4 linked regions of the Homo sapiens genome follow. The protein of the gene in region 1 interacts with the protein of each later gene in a pairwise test. Each region holds a gene or a part of one and is shown on either strand. Other genes may lie near its edges.

The links.
Region 2: the proteins of BRAP (region 1) and SHCBP1L interact in a two-hybrid assay, tested with the Homo sapiens proteins (one study listed by BioGRID and IntAct).
Region 3: the proteins of BRAP (region 1) and FAM184A interact in a two-hybrid assay, tested with the Homo sapiens proteins (one study listed by BioGRID and IntAct).
Region 4: the proteins of BRAP (region 1) and ZNF479 interact in a two-hybrid assay, tested with the Homo sapiens proteins (one study listed by BioGRID and IntAct).

Annotation. Positions count from the first base shown.
Region 1 is NC_000012.12:111,641,620-111,647,965, forward strand, and holds the end of BRAP (BRCA1-associated protein), read right to left. Parts: intron 2,944-6,346; coding exon 2,580-2,943; 3' UTR 527-2,579; downstream 1-526. UniProt on the Homo sapiens protein: Negatively regulates MAP kinase activation by limiting the formation of Raf/MEK complexes probably by inactivation of the KSR1 scaffold protein.
Region 2 is NC_000001.11:182,950,158-182,957,148, forward strand, and holds the start of SHCBP1L (testicular spindle-associated protein SHCBP1L), read right to left. Parts: upstream 3,010-6,991; 5' UTR 2,977-3,009; coding exon 2,572-2,976; intron 1,833-2,571; exon of another isoform or gene 1,828-1,832; coding exon of another isoform or gene 1,780-1,827; intron 1,311-1,779; coding exon 1,161-1,310; intron 1-1,160. UniProt on the Homo sapiens protein: Testis-specific spindle-associated factor that plays a role in spermatogenesis. In association with HSPA2, participates in the maintenance of spindle integrity during meiosis in male germ cells.
Region 3 is NC_000006.12:119,019,644-119,026,678, reverse strand, and holds part of FAM184A (protein FAM184A), read left to right. Parts: intron 1-1,865; coding exon 1,866-2,720; intron 2,721-3,598; coding exon 3,599-3,734; intron 3,735-6,519; coding exon 6,520-6,701; intron 6,702-7,035.
Region 4 is NC_000007.14:57,117,141-57,122,436, reverse strand, and holds the end of ZNF479 (zinc finger protein 479), read left to right. Parts: intron 1-1,284; coding exon 1,285-2,597; 3' UTR 2,598-4,761; downstream 4,762-5,296. UniProt on the Homo sapiens protein: May be involved in transcriptional regulation.

The sequences.
Region 1 (6,346 bases):
ATGTTGCCCAGGCTGGTCTTGAACTCCTGACCTCAAGCATTCCTCCCACCTCAGCCTCCCAAAGTGGTGGGATTACAGATGTGAGCCACCGCACCCAACCAAGGGGCTGATTTTTACGTTGCTTTTTAAATCAAGGCCACTTTTTTTTTTTTTTTTTTTTTTTGAGATGGAGTCTCGCTCTGTCACCCAGGCTGAAGTGCAGTGGTGCAATCTCGGCTCACTGCAAGCTCTGCCTCCCGGGTTCATGCCATTCTCCTGCCTCAGCCTCCCAAGTAGCTGGAACTACAGGTGCCTGCCACCATGCCCAGCTAATTTTTTTTTTTGTATTTTTAGTGGGGACGGAGTTTCACCATGTTAGCCAGGATGGTCTCGATCTCCTGACCTCATGATCCGCCCGTCTCAGCCTCCCAAAGTGCTGGGATTACAGGCGCTGAGCCACTGTGCCCAGCCGACACTTTCTTAGATTATTAGAGACATGCTCCCAAGCAAATGTCAGTCAGAGACACACATTTCACACGGGGCAGAATAATTTCAAAGTTTGGCTATTTTAATTCAATTTCATTGTTCAAGGTAGTATGGGTATATTAAGTGGTTCATTTCCCTCCTGAAGAAAACAACTTCTGTCTGATGTGATTTTGTGAAATTCAAACATGACTCTTTGACTGTTTAAAAAAAAATTTTTTTTTCTTTACGTATCTTGGTAAGATTTTTTTTTTTTCTGGGACATATTTTTTGTAAACCTCCAAGTAGTTTGGAAACACTTGCCTATTTGCTCATTCCTCTGGGCACAGCCTTTCAGAGCATTTATCCCACCTGTACTGAAAAATCTGTTTTCCCAGGTGGTGGTGGGGCCACTGGATAGAAGGGATCACAGAGAAATGAGGAGTGAGCGAGCTTTGTAAACTACTTCTAATTCTCTTCATTAGTATGCTATGATCCACCCCAGCTTCTGCAAGGTCAGACATGCAAGACAAGTACTTGGCCAAAACAGCAGGATTCTAACTAGTGTAAAAATAGATTTTAAATAAAATAGAATCTCTATAGGAAAGAGAATTAGGTTATGCTTTACATTCCCACTCTTAAGATATCTGTATATATAAGTCCAAGAGAGACTCAAAGAGTTGGTCTGCCCTAAGTAAAAATTAAGAATGTCTGAGTACATTCATTTTGCAACATTACACGTAAAGTTTTTTGGGAAATGCTGCAGCACATCCCACAAAAACAGATGGTGATTAGTGATACAGTTGATGTGCTAACAAGTAACATGTAAGACATTTAGGTCAAAGGGGATGAGGCCTAATTACAGGCTAAAAACCTATTCTGAAATGTGATCATTTGAAAACCTGTGGCTAATTATAAAGCAAAAACTAAAACCTGTTGTTTAACAATACATCTTACTAACCTATCCCTCTACCTCTTCAAGAAACTAAATTCCAACACAGGTCTTATTTTAAGTTTGCTCAATTACTGCAGGTTATAAATTATTTGACATTTATGGTTCCAGAGAGAGTACACAGCCCCTCTGTTGGCCCACACAAGCGTTATATGACTGTTCTAAAGGGGGCTCTGTTGAAATTCTAATTTTAGGATTTAGAAACAGCTTTTGGTTATATCTTGAAAGCGTAATTGAAAATCTGCCCAAGCTCCCTCTAGCTGCAACCTGAACATGCAGCCCAATATTTTGTAAACATTTAGAAAATACTAAACCCAACAAAATACACAATTAGCTAGTCAGAGGCCTCACTCTACATTTTCACACGGATGAGAAATCTCCCCACTCAGTCTTGCTAGATGCTAGGATACCCACTCTGAGATTTGAGTTTGGGAACAGCCATTAAGCCTCCTCCTTAATTGCGGTTCATAATGATGTACGAAGTCACCAAAAATAAACAGTGGAGCTGCCACCATTTTTCCTACACTGAGTCTACCCAATGTGCCCCGGGTTGTTTGTTTTTCCTGGCTGGCCCCAGAGCAAGAAGAGATGACTGCTGGTAAAGAGCCAGGGCCTGGTTTACTACCAGGCCTCTTTTCAGATAACATTCAAGCAATTCTTCCACTCCCCAGAGGAAGGGGGAGATGATAATGATATGACACTATTGCTAGGGAGTTTTCATAACTCCTTAATAGCCAATGGAAACCTCTCTTTAAAGCAGCTGTTATGCCCTCAGAGAGGTTTGGTGCTTTAGTGCTAGATAACCTTACCTTTGAGGTTACAAGAAATAACTTAACATCTTAAACCTACCCCAGAACTGAATGTCAAATACGCCAACTCCATAAATACAATGGAAAAATGCACAGCAGAGTTGGGGCTTCTACCAAGCAGGAAGGCAAAATGGTCATTAGAATGTGAGGTTAGTGAACTCTTAAGACCTTTTCGAACGCAGCGCCTTTCTATCAGCTCTCCAGTCAGCACCCTTTACATTCACTACATCACACACTAGCAAATGAAAGAGCCAAACAACTGTGGCTTGATCCTCACTTGTACTTATTAGGGCCCACCCTCACATTTAGCTGAAGGTCCCAGCACACTCTCACAGTGTCAGGGAGAACAGTCTCAGGGATGTCTGTTGCTCTGAAGGTCACTTGCCCCTCTTGCTGCGGCCCTTCCTGGAGGGCAACTTCCCACTGCCCCCCGAAGAGGCAGGGCTCGAGGCCGAGGCCATGGCGATGTTGATCTGTCCCTCCTGGATTTCCTGCCGGGTCTCGGCAGGCAGATGGTTGATCTTCTGCTGTGTCTCCAGGTAGAACATGACGTCACGCAGCTGCTCCTGGATCTCGGTGATCTGCAGATCTTTTTGGTCACAGGTCTCCTTCAGCACCCTCTCCTCCTCTTTTAGCTTGTTCTGCAGGAGGACTTGGTTGGCTCGCAAACACTTGTTCATTTCCTGCTCCTCTTTGAGCTCGTTGGTGAGTTTGGCCACTTTTGTGTTTAGCTGAGTGCACCTTTTGAAAAACAAAGGAAGACAAAAGCACATTTTTCATTTGCTGACACAGTCCCCTTTCTGCTCTGGGATTGAACAGAGAAACCATGACCTCAGAATCCCTTTAGGACAGACCCCTTTCTCCCATCGTGAGGGAGAATGGTTTTCTGCCATCGCAATCAGCTATGCAAAGCAAGAATTTTGCTCTACTTAACACAAGTGTATTTTTTTTTGAGACGGAGTTTCGCTCTTGTTGCCCAGGCTGGAATGCAATGGCACGATCTCAGCTCACTGCAACCTCCACCTCCTGGGTTCAAGCGATTCTCCTGCCTCAGCCTCCCAAGTAGCTGGGATTACAGGCACCTGCCACTATGCCTGGCTAATTTTTGTATTTTGAGTAGATATTGGGGTTCGGCATGTTGGCCAGGCTGGTCTTGAACTCCCAACCTCAGGTGATCCACCTGTCTCGGCCTTCCAAAGTACTGGGATTACAGGCATGAGGCACTGCGCCAGTCCACAAGTGTATTATTTATTTATTTATTTTTTGAGATGGAGTCTCACTCTGTTGCCCAGGCTGGAATGCAGTGGCGTGATCTTGGCTCACTGCAACCTCTGCCGCTTGGGTTCAAGCGATTCTCCTGCCTCAGCCTCCTAAGTAGCTGGGATTACAGGTGCCTGCCACTGTGCCCAGCTAATTTTTGCATTTTTAGTAGCGACGGGGTTTCACCATCTTGGCCAGGCTGGTCTGGAACTCCTGACCTTGTGATCCACCCACCTTGGCCTCCCAAAGTGCTGGGATTACAGGTGTGAGCCACCGCGTCCAGCCCACAAATGTACTTTTAAGACACTTTTTTTTAAGCATCAGAAAGTTTTCAGTAGCAGAAACTATTCTGTGACTGACGGTAAAAATTCTACTGCTTCTTTGTTTTGCAGTCAGTGGTTAAATAGGTGCCTTCGAGATGATAGCTGTGATAAGGAAGTTATGAGGAAAAGTGGCATTCTTGGAGAGTCAAGTACTCTGACTTCATTGCATTTGCTGAAGGGGAAAAAAAGGGCACTTATTCTAACCAAAGGGCTTTAGACTTGGGAGTGCCCTATTCTTGATGTCCAGTCTTACTCATAAGTAAAGAATTGCAAATGAAACCACCATTTGAGGCCAGGTGCATTGGCTCATGCTTGGAATCCCAGCACTCTGGGAGGCTGAGGCGAGAGGATCGCTTCAGTAAATGAAACAGGAAATGAGTTCGAGACCAGCCTGGGCAACAAAGTAAGACCCTGTCTCTACACAAAATCAAAAAACTTAGCCAGGTGCAGTGGCGTGCACCTGTGGTCCCAGATTTACAGGAGGCTGAAGCTGGAGGATTGCTTGATCCCAGCAGGTCAAGGCTGCAGTGAGCTGTGTTCATGCTACTGCACTCCAGCCTGAGTGACAGAACGAGATCTTGTCTCAAACAAACAACCCATACCATCTGAGACCCAGCAGAGTGGCTCATGTCTGTAATCCCAGCACTATGGGAGGCAAAAGTGAGAGGGTCACTTTGAAATCAGCCCGGTCAACATAGCGAGACACCGTCTATACAAAAGAAAAATTAAAAAACTAGCTGGGTGTGGTGATGTGCACTTGTAGACCCAGCTACTTGGGAGGCTGAGGCAGAGGACTGCTTGAGCCCAGGAATTTGAGCCTGCAGTGGGCTGTGATTGCATCACTGCACTCCAGCCTGTCTGACAGAGTAAGACCCTGTCTCAAAAAAACAACAACAAAAACCAAAAACACTCACACACAAAAACCACGAACAAAAAAACCCCACTATTTGAGATACTATTTTTATGCATCAGAACACCCAAGAGCTGAGACATGAGAAAAGAGGCACTTACACACTAGCACTGGAGCATGAACTGGTATAAACTCTTTCGAAGACAACTTGGCAATATCTATAAAAACAAAAAATTTGGGCCAGGCACGGTGGCTCACGCCTGTTATCCCAGCACTTTGGGAGGCCGAGGAGGGTGGATCACGAGATCAGGAGTTCAACATCAGCCTGGCCAACATGGTGAAGCTCCGTTTCTACTAAAAATACAAAAATTAGCCGGGTGTGGTAGCGTGTGCCTGTAATCCCAGCTACTCGGGAGGGTGAGGCAGGAGAACTGCTTGAACCCTAGAGGCGGAGGCTGCAGTGAGTCGAGATCGTGCCACTGCACTCCAGCCTGTGTGACAGAGCAAGATTCCGTCTCAAAAATAAATAAATAAAAACAAAAAATTTGCATGCCCTTTGACACAGCTATTTTACTTCTAGGAATTTATACCATAGAATAGATATACTCAGGATTAGGTAAAAAGAGACATGGAGGAAGATGCTCATTACAGTATTGCTTATAGTAGTGTGAGATTTGACACAACTTGACACAATCAATAGGAACCTGGTCAAAATCATTATGCAGGCCAGGTGCAGGGCTCATGCCTATAATCCTAGCATTTTTGGAGGCCAAGACAGGATCAAGGAGGAGGATCACTTGAGGCTAAGAGTTCAAAACCAGCCTGGGCAATATGGCAAGACCCCGTCTCTACAAAAAAATTTTCAATTGGGCAGACATGGTAGCACACACCTGTAGTCCTAGCTACTCAGGAAGCTCAGACTAGGAGGACCACTTGAGCCCAGTAGCTGGAGGTTGCAGTGAACTATGATTACGCCACTGTACTCTGGCCTAGGCAACACAGCAAGACCTTATTTCAACAACAACCACCACAACAGAAATCATTATAGTACATCCATACAATTAAACAGCATGCAGATGTTACAAAGATCAGGATAGATTTAGATGTGCTAGTATGAAAAAAAATCCAAAAACATATTTTATCAAAAAGAATACCTAGATTCTATTTTTGCAGAGAAAAGATTATGCATGTGAGATATTTATGTGGGCAGAGCTAAACATCTAGAAGAAGAAATATTCACTGGTACTGGTTAATAATGGTTAACACTAGATAGCAGGATCTAGAGGGTGAAAAAGAACTTCCAGTTTTTGCAGGGTGTGGTGGCCCATGCCTGTAATGGTAAAACAGTCTCTGCAAAAAATTAGCCAGAGGCCAAGCACGGTGGCTCACGCCTGTAAAACCAGCACTTTAGCAGGCGGATCACCTGAGGTCGGGAGTTTGAGACCAGACTGACCAACATGGAGAAACCCTGTTTCTACTAAAAATACAAAATTAGCCACGCATGGTGGTGCATGCCTGTAATTCCAGCTACTTGGGAGGCTGAGGCAGGAGAATTGCTTGAACCCCGGAGGCAGATGTTGCAGTGAGCCGAGATCACACCATTGCAGCCTGGGCAACAAGAGCGAAACTCCGTCTCAAAAAAAAAAAGAAAAAAAGAAAAAAAAATTAGCCAGGGGTGGTGGTGCACAGCTGTAGTCCAGTTACTTGGGAG
Region 2 (6,991 bases), on another chromosome or scaffold:
TAATACAACAAGTTACATACATAAGTTTTTCTTGTATCCAAAAATACAGATTTAAACTAACTATCTGGGGTAAGGGTATCATTTGTGGTTATAAATATTAATTTCTATATAAGGATAATTGACCTTTAACAGAATCAAACATGCCACAATGTTTAGCCTACAGGCCTAACAAAGAAAAATCTTATTAGGGCCGGGTGCAGTGACTCATGCCTGTAATCCCAGCACTTTGGGAGGCTGAGTCAGGCAGATCACGAGGCCAGGAGTTCGAGACCAGTCTGGCCAACATGGTGAAACCCCTTCTCTGCTAAAGATCACAAGGTTAGGAGTTCAAGACCAGCCTGGCCAACAGGGTTAAACCCCGTCTCTACCAAAGATACAAAAAATTAGCTGGGCATGGTGGCATGCGCCTGTAATCCCAGCTACTCGGGAGGCTGGGGCAGGAGAATCGCTTGAACCGGGGAGGCAGAGGTTGCAGTAGCCGAGATCACACCACTGCACTCCAGCCTGGGCGACAGGACGAAACTCTGTTTCAAAAGAAAAAAAAAAGAAAAATCTTATCAGATAAAGGCTTGGAAGATATTATACTAGAAGGGTACTTTTTTTTTTTGAGACGGAGTCTCACTCTGTTGCCCAGGCTGGAGTGCAGTGGCATGATCTCAGCTCACTGCAAGCTCCGCCTCCTGGGTTCACACCATTCTCCTGCCTCAGCCTCCCTAAAAAGGGTACTTTTCAAAGGAAAAAAATTTCAAATTTTCCCAGTAGTTTTCTGATCCATTTCTTTTTTTTTCCTCATCTGAACTAAACTTCTTAATTCAGATAAATGAAGATTAAAGGGAAAAGACAGAAAAAGAAGGCCCAAGTTTGTTAAAGACTGAATCACTAATTTTATAAGAAATGCATTTTTGTTATTTTTACATTAGTTGAGCAAAAACTAGGCTAATAAATATTGTCTGATACTACTAGATTCCATTTAATGATAATGGTTTACAGGCACTAATATTCCCCTAACCTTCTTTTTACACTATTAATTTTCTCGGAAACTTAAAACAGAAGTAAAAATGTGTCAACTCTTGTGTATCAATCTCCAAATAATAAAGTCATATTTTAGTCTTTAAAAGAACTGATTCAAAAAGAACAAAGATCAAATAAAATTTATTTACCTCAACCAATATACCAACAAAAGGGATAGAAGCTTCTTCATATTTCACAAAGAATACACTGGGATTAGTCTTCCAGACTCCAAGCCATTTGTCTTTCAACTTTAATTTTTCTGATAGGTATTTACCCATAACTTCATCAGCATCTTCTGCCTAACAAGAGAAAAAATGGATCTACATATAAATATATGAAATTATAGATTTTAAACTAAGTGGTTTTTTTTTTTTTTACTGATTTCTATTTTAAAATGGAACCAATATAGCCTTAAATAATGAATGACCTGGAAAATTACAGATTTTAACTGAAACCGCATCTAGTGGAAAACATCACCAACAAAAAATTAAACTTAAAAGAGATCTATTCACTCGAATAATTCATAGATAAGACAGCTAGTTATTGTTTATGTCTTAATTTTCAACTTTTTATAAATATCACTGCAGTGAATATGCAGGTACACAAATTCTTCTGCTACAACTTAAAAAAATAGGTTAGAAACATGAAATATTTGCTCTATTCCGTTTTATCAGATATGTATTTTCTATAAAAGAAAGTCATGCCACCAGGCACGGTGGCTCATGCCTGTAATCCCAACACTTTGGGAGGCCGAAGCGGGCAGATTACCTGAGGTCGGGAGTTCGAGTCCAGCCTGACCAACTGGAGAAACCCCATCTGTACTAAAAAAAAATACAAAATTAGCCAGGCGTGGTGGCTCATGCCTGTAATCCCAGCTACTCGGGAGGCTGAGGCAGGAGAATTGCTTGCACCGGGAGGCGGAGGTTGTGTGAGCCGAGATTGCCCCACTGCATTCCGGCATGGGCAACAAGAATGAAACTCCGTCTCCAAAAAAAAAAAAAAAAAAAAAAAAAAAAAAAAAAAATATATATATATATATATATATATATATATATATATATATATATACACACACACACACACACACACACATTTATATATATATATACACACACATATATATCATGCCGCATTGTGGACTGCTGAGTGGGAAGTACCCTTAAAGTAATTTCTAGCATTCTAGTGTAAAAGTCAAGGCTAAGTGATCTTACTCATGTTTGGACATAAACTGTTAAATAAAGGTACCAAGATTCATGCCTGTGCAATGATAAGGCCAATATATCTTCATTTTTTAGGAGCTCTCAGAAAATTCTCTCTCAGGGCTGTCCCGTTACCTGACGAATTTTGTCGGAAACTCGAACCTTAACTCCTCTAGGGCAGGACGCGGGCACCTCTAACAAGGTGAACGCTCTATACATGTTGACTCCATTTACTTTTTTGAAACGCAAGTTTTCGTTGTGCCCTGTGGATCCCCATCCGCCTAAGAGGGAAGCCCCAGATGCCTGTCCCCAGGTTCCGACGAGCTTCCGACCGTAGTCTTCCTGTCCCGGATCCGCTCACCTTACAGTCCTGCAGCACTTCGTCGCAATACAGCGACACCTTCTCGTCCCGCCACATCCCCCTCATACGGGACACGCAGACTGGGGGCAGGGGCTGCGCCTCCTCTTCATCCTCAGGCACTGGCAGCAGGGGCTCCTCCGCCGCCGCCGCCGCCGCCTCTCCCGTGTCCTCGGCCTGAGCCGCGGGCAGGCGCTGGAGCCGCAGCCTGGCCGTCTCCCGGCCCGCTTTCCCCTTCACCGGGCGAGGGGAGGCCACCACCGACCGCACTGGGATCGCGGTGCCCTTCAGGGTGGTCGCGGCCGCCGTGTCCCCGGAGACAGCGGAGGCGGACTTCTCGCCTCGCCTGTCCGGGCTGATGGTGCGGAATGAGTCCGCGGGCACCGAGGCCTTGGAGCCCGACGCCATCTCCTCAGCAGCCCGAGGGCCGAGGCAGCCGTTGGCCACTTTTCCCGCCCTCGGCCGCTCTGGCCAATAGGCGCTCTGCGCTTCAGGCCCGCAACGAGCGGCTGCTCGAGGGCGTCCCGCCGGGTGGGGTGTTGCGGCTCTGGGAGGGATGTGAGGCGCGGCCCAGAGCTAGGGGGTGCGGGGCCTGCGGGTAGAGCGCGGGGTCCTGCGGACGCATTCAGGGTGCTGGGGGGCGCTGCTCAGAGCTAGGTGGGACAGGGCGAAGCGCCTGGGCTCAGGACAGGGGTGGGGGGGCCCGGGTCAGTGTTGGGTGCGGCTCCGTGCCGAACCCCCACCAGGTGCCGCACACACCAGAAGGTGCCAGACGAGCCCAACGCAATGGCTCTAACCCCAGCCCTCTGTCTCCCCCAGGGGAGGTTTCCTTAGGGTCCTCATACGTTTCAGGGTGATTATGAGTCACCTTCCAGGTCATCAGGACCTAAAAAAATGCTCCACCTACCACTCCACAAACAAAGCCTGAAAGAAAATTTATTTTCATACTGGGAGGTGACACTAACTGGAACCCTCTGGCTATTACTAGAGGAAACCCTAGTGACAAATCCAGCAACCTAGATTTCCCTTTTAGCCCCCACCTATTACAGGGTTCACCAAATAGGATTTCCTTTACATTTTAAATAGGACTTTCACTTTTTGCCAAGATGTGGTCATACCAAGGAGAAGTTAGTCTGTTTTCTTGTCTCTGTTGTGCTATTCAAAATTCTCACATAAAAGATTATATTATATAACTGTTAAACTGGACAACAACTTCCAGCTGGGAGTGATGTGTGCAAACTATGAACACTTTCACGATAAAAGTCTGTTCCAGATCATACATTTTGGAGAACAACAGAGACCACTCACTTCTGGTATTTTACTGTTGAATGTATATTGAGCCAATTGGAATTAACGTTTGTTCACAGTCTAGCTGTGAAATACTGCACTGAAGCTGACAGCTCCCAAGGAGAACAGCATTGGGAAAACACCTGCCTTCCTTCACACTCGTCTGGAAGAACACTATGTTAAATTCTGAGTTTATTTTGAGGAAAATATTAACATCATGTGGCTGGGCGCGGTGGCTCACGCCTGTAATCCCAGCGCTTTGGGAGGCCGAGGCGGGCGGATCACAAGGTCAGGAGATCGAGACCATCTTGGCTAACACGGTGAAACCCCGTCTCTACTAAAAATACAAAAAATTAGCCGGGCGCAGTGGCGGGCGCCTGTAGTCCCAGCTACTCGGGAGGCTGAGGCAGGAGAATGGCGTGAACCTGGGAGGCGGAGCTTGCAGTGAGCCGAGATTGCGCCACTGCAATCCGGCCTAGGCTAAAGAGCGGGACTCCGTCTCAAAAAAAAAAAAAAAAAAAAAATTAACATCATGTTACTGTAGTTTAGGGAATAATTACAACATGCATCATGTTTCAATTCTATTCTTACTTTATTCCTTTCGTTGAGTCCTGGACTTTGTTTATAACAATACTAACTGCATATTTCACTCACACACACACACACAAATGTTTTACTCTAGTGTTTCTTCAAAAGTTTGTTTTTGATAAATTATGGGTTTTTTAATTCTTAGGTTCTGAATAATAAAGACCACCTGTCCTGGGCCAAAGTTTAAAAACAGCAACAGCTCCCTTTTCCTCCAAAAGGCAAATACTTGTTAGAAATCTGTTACATGCCACACAATGCGTAGATGCCACAGTTATAGAGGTAAAAGACCAAATCCCTGCCCTCGTAATCCTAGTGAAAGATACAGATGGGTCAGTAGATGATTGTGTTTGGTAAGGACCATGCTTTTATTTATGTAAATACACATAAATACATACATATATATATTTATATACACACAAATAATTTGTATTTATTTATGTGTGTATATATATGCGTGTGTGTGTGTGTGTGTGTGTGTATATATATACACATATATTCCACATTGTAGGAGAAAAGGACCTTTCTTCTCCAAAGAAGGGATACTTAAGCTGAGTTTTTAAAACAACTTTTTTCTTTTTTTTTGCCTCCCAAAGAAATTTAGCTTGTTTCTCCCACCTCCTGTCTCCTCCAGGATGCTTTGACAAATGGAATACCACTGTCCCTTTTTCCTACAATGACTCCCTTCTCCCAACACAGAGCTCCCAATGCCCAGGCTCAAGATCGGCTTTCAGTTCCACCCATGGCCACTGCGTTTCTTGGTCATTCTTCAAGGGGTCTTTGTGTTCTCAACCTTCTGCCGCAATCCCAAGTGGAAGCTCTGTTGGCTCGCCCTCTAGTCCTCTTCCTGCTGAGCCAGTCTTCAACTAGGAATCACACCAGAGTCACCAGGACAAGGAAAGCTAGGCCCATCTGAAGGAGATTCTGGGCAGTGTGGTCTCAGAGGGCACAGTCTTTCTGGAGTCCCGTCTCTGGTTAAAAGGTAGGTGTCCCAAGAGCCAGAAGAGGTGGGGTCTGCTGGTGTTCTCAATGTCACCTATGATCAGGAGCTTTGCCAGTTCACTGGGGAAAGACCACACATGGTTGTTATAGGAGCCAAAACATCGGTATGTCCCTCTGTGGGTTGTGGTCACAGGACCAATGGGGAACTCCGCCTGGACATTCCCATATCTGCACTGTGTGCGGCTGGATCTTCCCTCCTGTTACCACCAGATCCAGAGTCACTGGGCTCCGACCAGAGCTCCCCAGCCAGATAGAAGCAGCTGTATAGCCCTGCTGTGCGGAAGGTCATGAGTAGGATGTGGAATTCAACTTTGTTAATCCATTCAGGGGGTTTTGGTCTCTCCATGGCAGAAAGGCTTCCTTCAAAGTACAGCTGGTATTCAACAGCCTCAGAATCTCCCCAGTGACAGATGGTCACCGGCTTTTCATTTGGATTCATGAACTGGGTTCAGCCCAGATGATGGGTTTTGGGAGAGTCTGCTGCTGAGCACTGATCCTCTGGCTCAGACACAGCCAGTGGCAGAGCAGGGCAGGGAGTGCAGAAGGCATCACTCAGATTCTGCCAGTCGAGTGCCAAGCAGTGGGGTGGGGACTGAGCCCAGCAGGCCAGGAGATGCACAGTATGTGGTAGGTGAGGCCCAGCGCCCATCACCACGGGGCAGCTTTCACCTTGACTTTTTTCACAAGAAGGTTCACAGCTCCTCTCCACCTCTGACCATGAGTCTACAGAAAGGCCATGGTCCCTATGACACATCTGACCACAGCTGTGGTCTAGCCAGCTCCTCTGATAATTGTCTGCTCAGCCTGAAATGCATTTCTGGGTCAACTTCTCAATTCTGCAATGTGGAAGTCATGCCCAGGGCATGAGTCAGTATTCAGACCCATGATACCCCCTGAGAATCATATAAAAATATAGGGAATTTCACAATGAGATACCATTACCATCTCACACCAGTCAGAATGGCTATTACTAAAAAGTCAGAAATTCACAGACGCTGGTGAGATTGTGGAGCAAAGAGGAAGGTTTACACACTGTTGGTGGGAGTGTAAATTAGTTCAGCCACTGTGGAAAGCAGTTTGGAGATTTTTCAAAGAACTACAAATAGAATTACCATTCAGCCCAGCAATCCCATTCCTGGGTATATATCCAAAGGAAAATAAATAATTCTACCAAAAAGACACATGCACTTGTATGTCCATTGGAGCACTTCACAATAGCAAAGATATGGAATCAACCCAGGTGCCCAACAGTAGTGGATTGGATTAAGAAAATGTAGTACATATACACCATGGAATACTATACAGCTGTGAAAAGGCACAAGATTTTTGCAGTAACATGGATGCAGGTGGAAGGCTTTATCCTAAGCAAATTAACACAGAAGCAGAAAACCATGTTCTCACTTATAAGTGGGAGCTAAACACTGGGTACATGTGAACACAAAGAAGGGAACAACAGTAACTGGGGACTCCAAAAAGGAGGAGAGAAGGAGGGGGGCAAGACTTGAAAAACTATGTATTTGGTACTATGCTCACTAGTTGGGTGACTGGA
Region 3 (7,035 bases), on another chromosome or scaffold:
TCTCTGTTTTAATGTTAACGTCGGTCAGTTGTGTCTAAATCCCGAAGTATAGAGTGCAGAAAAGCCCAGCATGTCCAATCCATAATGAGGCATGTCTGACCCCTCCCTTTCAGTCATGGCCTAAACTATTTTTTCAGGTTTCTTTGGGGTCCACTTGGCTAAGAGGAGGGTCCGTTCAATCGGTTGGGGGCTTAGAATTATATTTTTGGTACACTTGTTATATCACAGATCCTTTCAGTCTTTTATGGCCATTTGACTTGGTGGGCGGATATGACCCAAGGGGATGGGAATAGGAAGTCAGTCAGCTTTCTTGGCTTATAAGCTACCTTTATGAGTAAATGTGTAAATGAAGGAGTCCTGCTTGGGATCTGTGTTACCTTATTGGGAACATAATTTGGAATTTGAAATTAGGGTTTTTTAAAAACAGAATGTGAATAAGTACTTCTGTTCACATTTTTTCCTGTAGACTTTGCAAAAAGGGATAGCATGGCAAGACAGATGGGTTCCTGCCATCTCTCAATCTTTTTACCTTTGGTATGATGGCAGACTAAGCGAGTATATGGACAGGGCCACTGGATCTGGAAGACAAAGCCCTATGTGGAGAAAGTGATGCCCCTGTGTTGAGGCAGCCTTCTTGTTTCTTTTGCAAGCACAACTGCTGTCCCAGACAGTGACAGCCTATCTTTAGCGAGTGGGATCTGGAGTTACTGTGGTATTTGGAGAGCCAGCCAGTCTGCCACAGTTACCTCAGGCTGCATGAATAATTTCTCTACAAAAAATGGCAGCAGTTTTCCATCATAACTGCAGTTTCTGGTATCTGATGCTGGAATTCATTTCTAAAGCCAGAGTAATATCACATTAAAATGAGCAAATCTCCAGACACTGATTTTTAGCTGCTGGATTTTTTGATTGTACAGTGTTTACTTCTTTTCGCTTCCGGGGGAAGAAAGTGGGCTCATCTCAAAGCCTTAAATAACAGTCATGAAAATTTCACCGTGTGACCACAGTGGCATGATGGATGGCATCCGAGGAACAGAGGGAAGGAAGGAGAGTGTTACTGTGCAGGGAATTTGTTGTCATTTGAAATTAAGGTTGGGACATCTCAGTGAAATCATTAAAACCTAGGAACTAAAATGAAAATAAAGACCTGTACTCAAAACTCTGGCTTAAGGAATTGGGTTGCTTGGAGGCAGAGAGAAAATTAGCCAAAGAGTAAAACTACAGCATTTGAAATATGAAGAGAAAAAGTACAAATTGGATTTTATAAAGAGATCACTAGAAACTTGAAGAGAGAAGAGGATCAGCTTTAGAAGCAAACTATAGGGGAATTGGGAAAGGAAAGTTTAAAATTTGAAATATTTAAACAGGCCATTACAAAGATAAAAGGCTTTTGGGAAGACTTAGGGCCTAGGGCTTCTCTTCATGTGAAGCCTCTCGTATCTCTAGGACACCAATATAGGGCAGAGTCTTACTATGAGACTTTTTCTCCTGAACACCCCTTCACAGTCCCCGGTAAGCTAGATTGGGACATATGAGAACTCCTTTCTCTTAGGCCAATTGCCTCCTTTGTCCATTTCCTCTTTGCTGTTTCATTTGTAGTAAAAAATAGTCTTAAATTTGAATGTTTTAAAATTATAACTAAAAAGTCTTTAAATACAAATCTTAAGACTGTGCTAAGATAGAAATTTGCTAAGCAAATCAATCTATGAGTAAAAAAACAATTGCATCAAGATTCCATATTTAACATTAGCTGTAGCCAATATTATGTGCATAGAAAAATATCAATCCAAATGAAAGAATTGACTTCAAGTTAGAAAATAATATGGATTCACAATCCTTCTCCCTTCTTATTCAAAACCATGCAGGTAATATATGCTTTAAACACTAAAAATGATGAGCATGAATCTGCAATTCAAGCCCTCAAAGATGCTCATGAAGAAGAAATTCAACAAATTCTTGCTGAAACAAGAGAAAAAATATTGCAGTATAAAAGCAAAGTAACAGAGGAGCTAGACCTTAGAAGAAAGATTCAAGTTTTAGAATCATCATTAGAAGATCACATAAAAATGAAGCAGCAGGCTTTGACAGAATTTGAAGCTTATAAGCACAGAGTTGAGGACATGCAACTTTGTGCAGAAGCCCAGCATGTCCAACGCATAGTGACCATGTCTAGAGAAGTCGAAGAGATTAGAAGGAAATTTGAAGAAAAATTACGGAGCTTTGGACAACTTCAAGTACAGTTTGAAAAAGACAAACGATTGGCATTGGAAGACTTGCAAGCTGCTCACAGACGGGAGATACAAGAGCTATTGAAGTCACAGCAGGATCACAGTGCCTCAGTAAATAAAGGCCAGGAAAAGGCAGAGGAACTACACAGAATGGAGGTGGAGTCCCTAAACAAAATGCTTGAGGAGCTAAGACTTGAACGGAAGAAACTAATTGAGGATTATGAAGGCAAGTTGAATAAAGCTCAGTCCTTTTATGAACGTGAGCTTGATACTTTGAAAAGGTCACAGCTTTTTACAGCAGAAAGCCTACAGGCCAGCAAAGAAAAGGAAGCTGATCTTAGAAAAGAATTTCAGGGACAAGAAGCAATTTTACGAAAAACTATAGGAAAATTAAAGACAGAGTTACAGATGGTACAGGATGAAGCTGGAAGTCTTCTTGACAAATGCCAAAAGCTTCAGACGGCACTTGCCATAGCAGAGAACAATGTTCAGGTAAGTAAAGAATATTATATTCAACACATGGATTTTTTTTCTTTTAAAAATATTTGTTTTGTAGGCTGGAGAGCAGTCTGGCCCACTTAGAATCAGTGGCTTCACACCACTTAGACTTTTTTTTTTTTTTTTTTTTAACTTTTCCTGCTTTTCCTTTGTGAGAAAAATCAATGACAGGATAATTTGTATTACCCTGTAGTTGTTATTTCAGACTTTCAGATATTAGGGGCCCAAAAAGACAAGCTTAAAACCTTGTCTAATTATTGGCTAGGCACAGTGGTACACACCTGTAATCCCAGCACTTTGGGGGGCCCAGGCAGGAGGATCGCTTCAGGCCAGGTGTTAGAAACCAGCCTGGGTGAGTGAGCTTAGCGAGGTAATACGCTGTTCCTGGGGGGGGGGGCGGACAATATTGCTAATTATTTACAAAAGGATTTTAATATTGGGCTTAAAGTTTAAATACATTTTTTTCTTTTCCTTTCACTAATAATGGTTTGCCTGCTAGCTGATATTTAGAATTTGATCAAGAAATTGCTTGCTTTCTAAACCTGAATTTAATAGGGGTATTGCACAAGTCTGGGGGAAAAAAATGCCGGAAGTCCACAAGTTTTGTTTTGTTGGCTTAGAAAATTTCATAGCCATGTTTTTAATATCTGTGCAACATTAGAATGGATTAGAAAGTGTGGAATAGCCTTTCCTGATTGGGTCATGTTTATGAAAACATCAAGTTATAAATCACTAATACTTACAGATTTAAAAATTGGTATATAGTTTAGTATGACTTCTGAATAAGAGAAAGCTGACCCTTATAATTTAAATGAATTATTTAGCTTAGTATTATTCCTGCATTTTAACAATGGCTATTTAATCTTTCTTAGGTTCTTCAAAAACAGCTTGATGATGCCAAGGAGGGAGAAATGGCCCTATTAAGCAAGCACAAAGAAGTGGAAAGTGAGCTAGCAGCTGCCAGAGAACGTTTACAACAGCAAGCTTCAGATCTTGTCCTCAAAGCTAGTATGTGTGACCACAGTTTTTGATGTAATGCTTAGCTAAAATCAACACTTTATTTATTTATTTTTTTGGAGACAGAGTCTTGCTCTGTCGCCCAGACGGGAGTGCAGTGGCTCAATCTCGGCTCATTGCAACCTCTGCCTCCTGGGTTCAAGCAATTCTCCTGCCTCAGCTTCCTGAGTAGCTGGGACTACAGGTGCCCGCCACCATGCTTGGCTAATTTTTTTGTATTTTTAGTAGAGATGGAGTTTCACCGTGTTGCCCAGGCTGGTCTCGAACTCCTGAGCTCAGGCAGTCTCCCTGCCTCAGCCTCCCAAAGTGCTGGGATTACAGGCATGAGCCACCACGCTCGGCCCCAACACTTAAATGTTAATTTAAGGTAGCATTTATTTTTTCTTCTAACATTTTAAAACTATTTAGACTGTAAATAAGTTAAAGGACTCAATATGTTACTAATTACTTATAAGATACACAAATATTTTTTATTTTTAGGAATATATTTTTATAGAAAACTTGAGAGTTTTCCTTTGTGAGGAAAAATACCAATAGCAGGTAAAATACCAATAAAGTAGTCACTAAAAGAAAAACGGGCTGGGCATGGTGGCTTACACCTATAATCTCAGCACTTTGGGAGGCCAAAGTGGGCAGATCACTTGTGGCCAGAGGTTTGAGACCAGCCTGACCAACGAGGTGAAACCACATCTCTACTAAAAATAACAAAAATTAGCTGGGCATGGTGGTACACACTTGTAATTCCAGCTACTAAGGAGGCTGAGGCATGAGAATTACTTGAACCTGGTGGCAGAGGTTGCAGTGAGCCGAGATTGCGCCAGTGCACTTCAGCCTGAGCAACAGAGCAAGGCTGTATCAAAAAAAAAAAAAAAAAAAAAAAAAGAAAGAACGAAAAATGAAGCACACTTTTCAAGAGGTGTTGTCCTTTAAAAATATACATTTTATTTTATTTTATTTTTTGAGACAAGGTCTTGTTCTGTCACCTAGACTGGAGTGCAGTGGCATGAACACAACTCACTGTAGCCTGGACTTCCTGGGCTCAAGTGATCCTCCCACTTCAGCTTCCTGAGTAGCTGGGACCACAGGCATGCACCACCTTGGCTGGCTAATTTTTTAATTTTTTGTAAAGACGGGGTCTTGCCATGTTGCCTAGGGTGACCTCAAACTCCTGGGCTCTAGCAGTTCTCCCACCTTGGCCTCCCAAAGTGCTGGGATTTCAGGTGTGAGCCACCATGCCAGCATTTATTTAGTTTTTAGAGATGGGATCTTGTTCTGTTGCTCAGGCTTGAGTGCAGTGGCCTGATCATAGCTCACTGCAGCCTAAAACTCCTGGGCTTAAGTAATCCTCTTGCCTTAGCCTTCCCAGTAGCTGGGACTCTAGGTATGCCACGGGCTAACTTTTTTAAAGATGAGGTCTCACTGAAAAAATACACATTTTAAAGTGCTCAAATTAGTTGAAGTTTGTAAATTACAGCAGTTCATTTCTTAGGGCTTGTTACTAAGGTTCATTTTTACATACTAAAGCTGACTTGCCTATTTCTCAAGTGGCTGGTATGCTTTTTCACAACCATTACTGGAGGAAGTGGGTGACTTGTGTCAGTTCTGAAGTTATATTTTGTCTAAGTGTTTAGTGTGCCCAGGAAGGCTGTTTGAGCTGGTTCTTTGAGGATCTCATTTGATTTTGATTGGCTTATCAGTGAATCTCAGATTTTCCTTCCTCTAAAATAGTTGTTTTTAATAGCCTTTAGTGCACATTGGAGTGACCTGAAGGGTTTGTGAAACTACAGATGCTGGGCCCCACCCTCAGAGTTTCTGATTCACTTTTAGGTCTGGGGTGGGTCACATTTCTAACCAGAGTTCCCAGGTGATGCTGGTGATGCTGGTCCTGGGTACTTTGAGAACCTCTGCCTTAAACTATCCTTTCTATGAGACCTTTTTCTTCACTCACTTTTCATCTCTCTGTCTCTCCTCATTTTTCTCCACCTTCCCTGCTTTTTGCTGTCATTTAAGAGATTCTTTCATAACCTTGCTGTCTTTATCTGTGTCTTACATCACCTTAGTTGTTGGTTGGTTGGTTGTTTTTATTTGGAGATGAGGTCTCGCTATGTTGCAGGACATAGTGCAGTGGCTGTTACAGGTGCAGTCATAGCTCACTGCAACCTTGAACTCCTGGGCTCAAACAATCCTCCCATCTCAACCTCCCAAGTAGCTGGAACTACAAGCTCCACTTTAGGTCTTTATCTGGCCTCTTGCCTGAAACAAATTCAATTTCAACCAAACTGCTATCTGCCATCTTTGTTTCCTACATACAAACTTCTTCCTTTTTATGTTAGAATTTGAAAATAAATTAGAAAAGAACGAATCACTCATTTTGGCGCCACAGTGTCAGTCAGTGCATCCTCTCCGTCCTTCTTTTATTCCCAGGAGACTTTCTTATGAAGCCTACTGAGGAGTTGCGCCTACTTCAACCTGTTTAGCTTGCAATCTTAAAAAAACAAAAACAAAAACAAAAAAAACCAGTAAAACGGTACGAGGTGCAGGAAGCAACATTAATCATGTGAAAATGACGTTTTAATTTAAATTATTCTAGTGCGCTAAGAAGTATTTTCATGTAAATATTTCCATTTTATGTAGTGAAGAAACAAAAGGAAAATTTGTACATGTAGACCATTTATTTTACTTAAGTATAAAGTACAGTTGTGTTATTAAATGTAAACTGTTTATCTCATAGTACAACTGATTTTTAAATTGAAGGGATTTTCTTTTTGGGGGATAGGTCATATTGGAATGCTTCAAGCAACTCAAATGACCCAGGAAGTTACAATTAAAGATTTAGAATCAGAAAAATCGAGAGTCAATGAGAGATTATCTCAACTTGAAGAGGAAAGAGCTTTTTTGCGAAGCAAAACCCAAAGTCTGGATGAAGAGCAGAAGCAACAGATTCTAGAACTGGAGAAGGTAAAAAGTAATGGACACTCCATTCCCCCCGAAAGAGTTCCGTTTTTCTCTTTTTCACATTTGAAGTATTTGGAGTATTTCTTGCTACTCCCCAGTAACAATACATTTCCTACTTTAGTAGTTATTTTTGGTTCTAATTTTGAGGAAATGGGTATATAGCTAGACTATCCTATGCTGTATGTATGTTCAAAATATGTGGGTAACAATCTATATAATATAAAAACTTTAAGACATTTCAACCTATTTCAAGCCAGAAATTGAATAAACTCTTATTTCAGTGGAGTGTATACTTATAATCATTATTCGTTTTCTATTAATGAAATATATTACTGCA
Region 4 (5,296 bases), on another chromosome or scaffold:
ATGATTACATATATTTTTCATCATGTTATTTTAAGTGGAAAGACCTCTTTTCAGCATTTTATTTAGGGCACATACAATGATTATGTGCCAGCATTTATTCATTCTGGAAGAGTTTTATTTTTCTTTATGTTGTAGTACATTTTTCTGGTTTTATTATTCTCACCATGAAAATTTTTTTCAGCCTTTGACCATTTTACACAGTTCTTTTCTGACCTGCAAGGTTTCTGTTTACAAATTCACTGGCTGTCTCAGAGGACTATGCTTATAAATAATACCTCACTTTTATCTTGCAGCTCCCAAGATTATCTTCTGGTTTGTGACTTTTGAAACTTTGCTTAAATTTGTGTTGCGGATCTTTTTGTGTATATCCTAGTTTGTTTGTTTAGCTTCTTCATTTTTTACATACTTTTTTCTTACTTTAAAATTTTTTCAGTTATTCTTTTTTACCTCCACCTTGTTTATTTTTATTATTGCAAGTTTTGTTGGTATTCTTATTTTTCTTATTTTATTTGGGTGTCTGGTTTTCCATTTTTCTCATTGAGCATAATATGGATTATCTTAAATTTTAAAAATCAAGATCTACATCTTTGTTTTTATAGTTGCTTTTTCAAAATTTTTGATTTTTTTGATTGGACCATGTTATCCTCATGTTTTATATACATTGTAATCTTTGTTTGAGATTTAGACACTAACATAAAACTACCTTTCATGATCTTTATAATGCAGCTCCTTCCTGTCATAGCATGACACCAATTGTCTTTGGTAGAGATTCTGGGATTCTCACAAACATGTTCTCAGGATGTGTTTTGTCTGCAATTTGTATTTATTTTTCAATTAAAAGACTTCTTCATATTTCTTCTTAGTGGTCAGTAACTACGTTCTACACCTATCTTCTGCCCATCATACTGCAGTCTTTCTGCAGTTGTAACATTCACTTTTGAGCTCAGAAGACTTAAAGCTGTTATTAAAGGCACTATGTTCTTCTACTGGGCATGAGGAAGGGCTGTGTTGGGTAAATGTAGCAGACTTTTCTTTTCTCTCTATATGGCTCTGGACATCATGCTCACATGGTGCACACACTTACTTTATTTATAAATTTCCAACAAAGGTATTTTGATCACTATGATTTTGTTACATTTATACATCTATGAAGGAATTATGGCCTGTGGTATTTTGATATGGCATTTTGCTAATGTACCTTGTGTAATTTTATATATTTCATGTGTAGAATATATTTATATGAGTCCAGAAAGTGGAGTAACTTGTGCTTTTTGTGTCTTTCAGTTACGCGTTCCCATTTCACCCAAGACCTTCAGCCAGAGCAGGGCATCAAAGATTCACTCCAAAAAGTAATACCAAGAACATATGGAAAATGTGGACATGAGAAATTACAATTTAAAAAATGCTGTAAAAGTGTGGGTGAATATGAGGTGCACAAGGGAGGTTATAGTGAAGTTAACCAATGTTTGTCAACTACCCAAAACAAAATATTTCAGACTCATAAATATGTCAAAGTCTTTGGTAAATTTTCAAATTCCAATAGAGATAAAACAAGATATACTGGAAATAAACATTTCAAATGTAACAAATATGGCAAATCATTTTGCATGCTTTCACACCTAAATCAACATCAGGTAATTCATACTAGGGAGAAGTCCTACAAATGCAAAGAATGTGGCAAATCCTTTAACTGCTCCTCAAACCATACTACACATAAAATAATTCATACTGGAGAGAAACCATATAGATGTGAGGAATGTGGCAAAGCCTTTAGCTGGTCTGCAAACCTTACTAGACATAAGAGAACTCATACTGGAGAGAAACCCTACACGTGTGAAGAATGTGGCCAAGCCTTTAGGCGCTCCTCAGCACTTACTAACCACAAGAGAATTCATACTGGAGAGAGACCCTACAAATGTGAAGAATGTGGCAAAGCCTTTAGCGTATCCTCAACCCTCACTGACCACAAGAGAATTCATACTGGAGAGAAACCCTGCAGGTGTGAGGAATGTGGCAAAGCCTTTAGCTGGTCCTCAAACCTTACTAGACATAAGAGAATTCATACTAGAGAGAAACCCTATGCCTGTGAAGAATGTGGCCAAGCCTTTAGCTTATCCTCGAACCTTATGAGACATAGGAGAATTCATACTGGAGAGAAACCCTACACATGTGAAGAATGTGGCCAAGACTTTAGGCGCTCCTCAGCACTTACTATCCACAAGAGAATTCATACTGGAGAGAGACCCTACAAATGTGAAGAGTGTGGCAAAGTCTTTAGCTTATCCTCAACCCTCACTGACCACAAGAGAATTCATACTGGAGAGAGACCCTACAAATGTGAAGAATGTGGCAAAGCCTTTAGCTTATCCTCAACCCTCACTGACCACAAGAGAATTCATACTGGAGAGAGACCCTACACATGTGAAGAATGTGGCAAAGCCTTTAATTGCTCCTCAACCCTTATGCAACATAAGAGAATTCATACTGGAGAGAAACCCTACAAATGTGAAGAATGTGAGCAAGCTTTTAAGTGGCATTCAAGTCTTGCTAAACATAAGATAATTCACACTGGAGAGAAACCCTACAAATGTGAATAATATGGCAAAGTCCACCCTCAGGCCTTATAATACATAAAATAATTTACACTGGAAAAAAACACTACAAATGTAGAGAATGTGGCCAAGCCTTTAACCAGTTCCAAACCTTAATTGAATGTAAGAGAATTCATATTGGACAGAAATTTTATAAATGTAAAAAAATGTAACAAAGCCTTTAACCAACCCTCAAACCTTAATAAACCTAAGAGAATTTATTTTAAAAAAATTTTTTTGAGTTGGAGTCTCCCTGTGTCACCCAGGCTGGAGTGCAGTGTCATGATCTCAGCTCACTGTAACCTCTGCCTTCCGGGTTCAAGCGATTCTCCTGCCTCAGCCTCCTGAGTAGCTGGGATTACAGGCGTGTGCCACCACACTGGCTGATTTGTGTATTTTTAGTAGAGATAGAGTTTCACCATGTTGGCCAGGATGGTCTTGAACTCCTGACCTCAGGTGATCCACCTTTGTCAGCCTCCCAAAGCCTAAGAGAACTTATATTACAGAGACCCTAGAAACATAAAAAAAGTGACAAAACCTTTAAGCACATCTCAGGCCTTACATATTATCTGATCATTCATTCTAGAGAGAAACTCTACAAAAGCAAAGAATGTGGTAAAGCTGTTAACTAGTCTTGAACCCTTATTATACATAAGAGAATTAATACTGAAGAGAAACCCTACAATAAGGAATATGGTAATGTCTTTAAAAAGTCCTCAAACCTGAATAAATGTAAGATAATTGATATTGGAGAGAAACCCTGCAATTGCAGAAAAAAATGTGGCAAACCCTTTAACTGGTTCTCCATGCTTACTCACTAAAAAATTTTATACTGGAGAGAAACTCTGCTTACATAAAAATGTGACAGAGCATTTAAGCACACCTCAAACTTTTCTAAAAAAGAGAAATCATACTGGTGAGAAACTCTAGAAATGTGTTAAATGTGGCAAGGACTTTAAATGGTAGTCACACGTTATGGTAGGTAAGATAGTTTATACTGAAGAAGACTCCTACAAATATGAAGAATGTGGCAAAACTTTTAACAAATTCTCACACCTTATGGTACAGGAAAGCATTTATACTAGAGAAAAATTGTACAAAGAATGTGAAAAACCATTAATATCAGGTCACATCTTACTCAATATCAGAAAGTTTATACTTAATAAAGGGATTATAGGTCAGGTGTGTTGGCTCATGCCTATAATTCCAGCACTTTGGGAGACCAAGGTCGGTGGATCATGAGGTCAGGAGTTCAAGACCAGCCTGGCCAACATGGTGAAACTCCATCTCTACTAAAAATAGAAAAACTAGCTGGGTGTGGTGGCGTGCACTTGTAATCCCAGCTACTTGGCAGGCAGAGGTAGGAGAATTGCTTGAACCGGGGAGGCAGAGGTTGCAGTGAGCTGAGATAGAGCCACTACACTACAGCCTGGGTGACAGAGCAAGACTCTGTCTCAAAAAAAAAATTATAAATGTGATTACTGTAAAAAGACCTTTTGGAAAATATAGGCCTTTAAAGTAAAGACCAGTTATTCTGAAGACAAACATACAAACTTAAAGAGGATTGCTGTACCTTTACTTCCATTACAGATTTTATTGTACACATTTTATATTAAAGGAAAAATTTGAAGATCTGAGAAGATGCTCAAACTTTGTTGAACATTAGAGAATTTATATTGGAGAGAAAGTCTAAACATGTAATGAATGTGAAAAACATTTTTTCAAAACCTCCAGCTTAGAAAACACCAGTTTGTACTAAATATTTTTGCAGAACCAGTAAATGGGGAAAACATATTAAATCAAAAATTAAGTCTATATAAGCATCTGAGGGGTCACAGTAGAAAGAATGAAGGCACTGAAACTTCATACATTACACTAAATCAGAGGGTTGAGTGTAAAAGAGATCCAAAGCTAACACCATATACATGTTAAAGAAGTAGTTTTTTTCGAGATTCATAATTACCTTCGAGGTATGCTTCTTTCTTCTATAAAAAAATAGTTTCTGAACAGCAAATAATAATGTAACTCAAGTCTCAGATTCCGTCATGTTGACTCTTCCCATTGTTTGTGAAAGTATTTGATCAGTTGTTTCATCAGAGATAGGAGAGATTGTTTTTTATCAATTGTACGTTTATGTAATAAAATGCAATAAATTTAAAAATTTTTTAAAGATTATGTGTCAACTTAATTTTTTCATTAAACAAAGTTGTTTTTAATGTGTTAAAACTATTGTGCTTTGAATGAAGTATTAATTTGTCATCAGATTTAATGGGTCCCATTTTACTTAAGGTTCTAAGTAAAAGATGGTAACAATGTACTATTTGTTAATGTAGGGGAATGACATCTCTAGTAATCTCTTTTTTGCCAGTGTTGGTTGGTTGGTTGGTTGTTTGTTTTGAAATGGAGTCTTGCTCTGTTGCTTAGGCTGGAGTGCAGTGGCATGATGTCGGCTCACTGCAAACTTTACCTCCTGGGTCCAAGCGATTCTCCTGCCTTCAGTCTGCCAAGTAGCAGGGACTACATGCACATTCCACCACGCCTGGCTAATTTTTGTATTTTTAGTAGAGATGAGGTTTCACCATGTTGGCCAGGCTGGTCTTTAACTCCTGATCTCAGGTGATCCACCCGCCTCAGTGCCCCAAATTGGTGGGGTTACAAGCGTGGGTCACCATGCCTGTCCTGCCAGTGGTTTAAACTGCAAATAA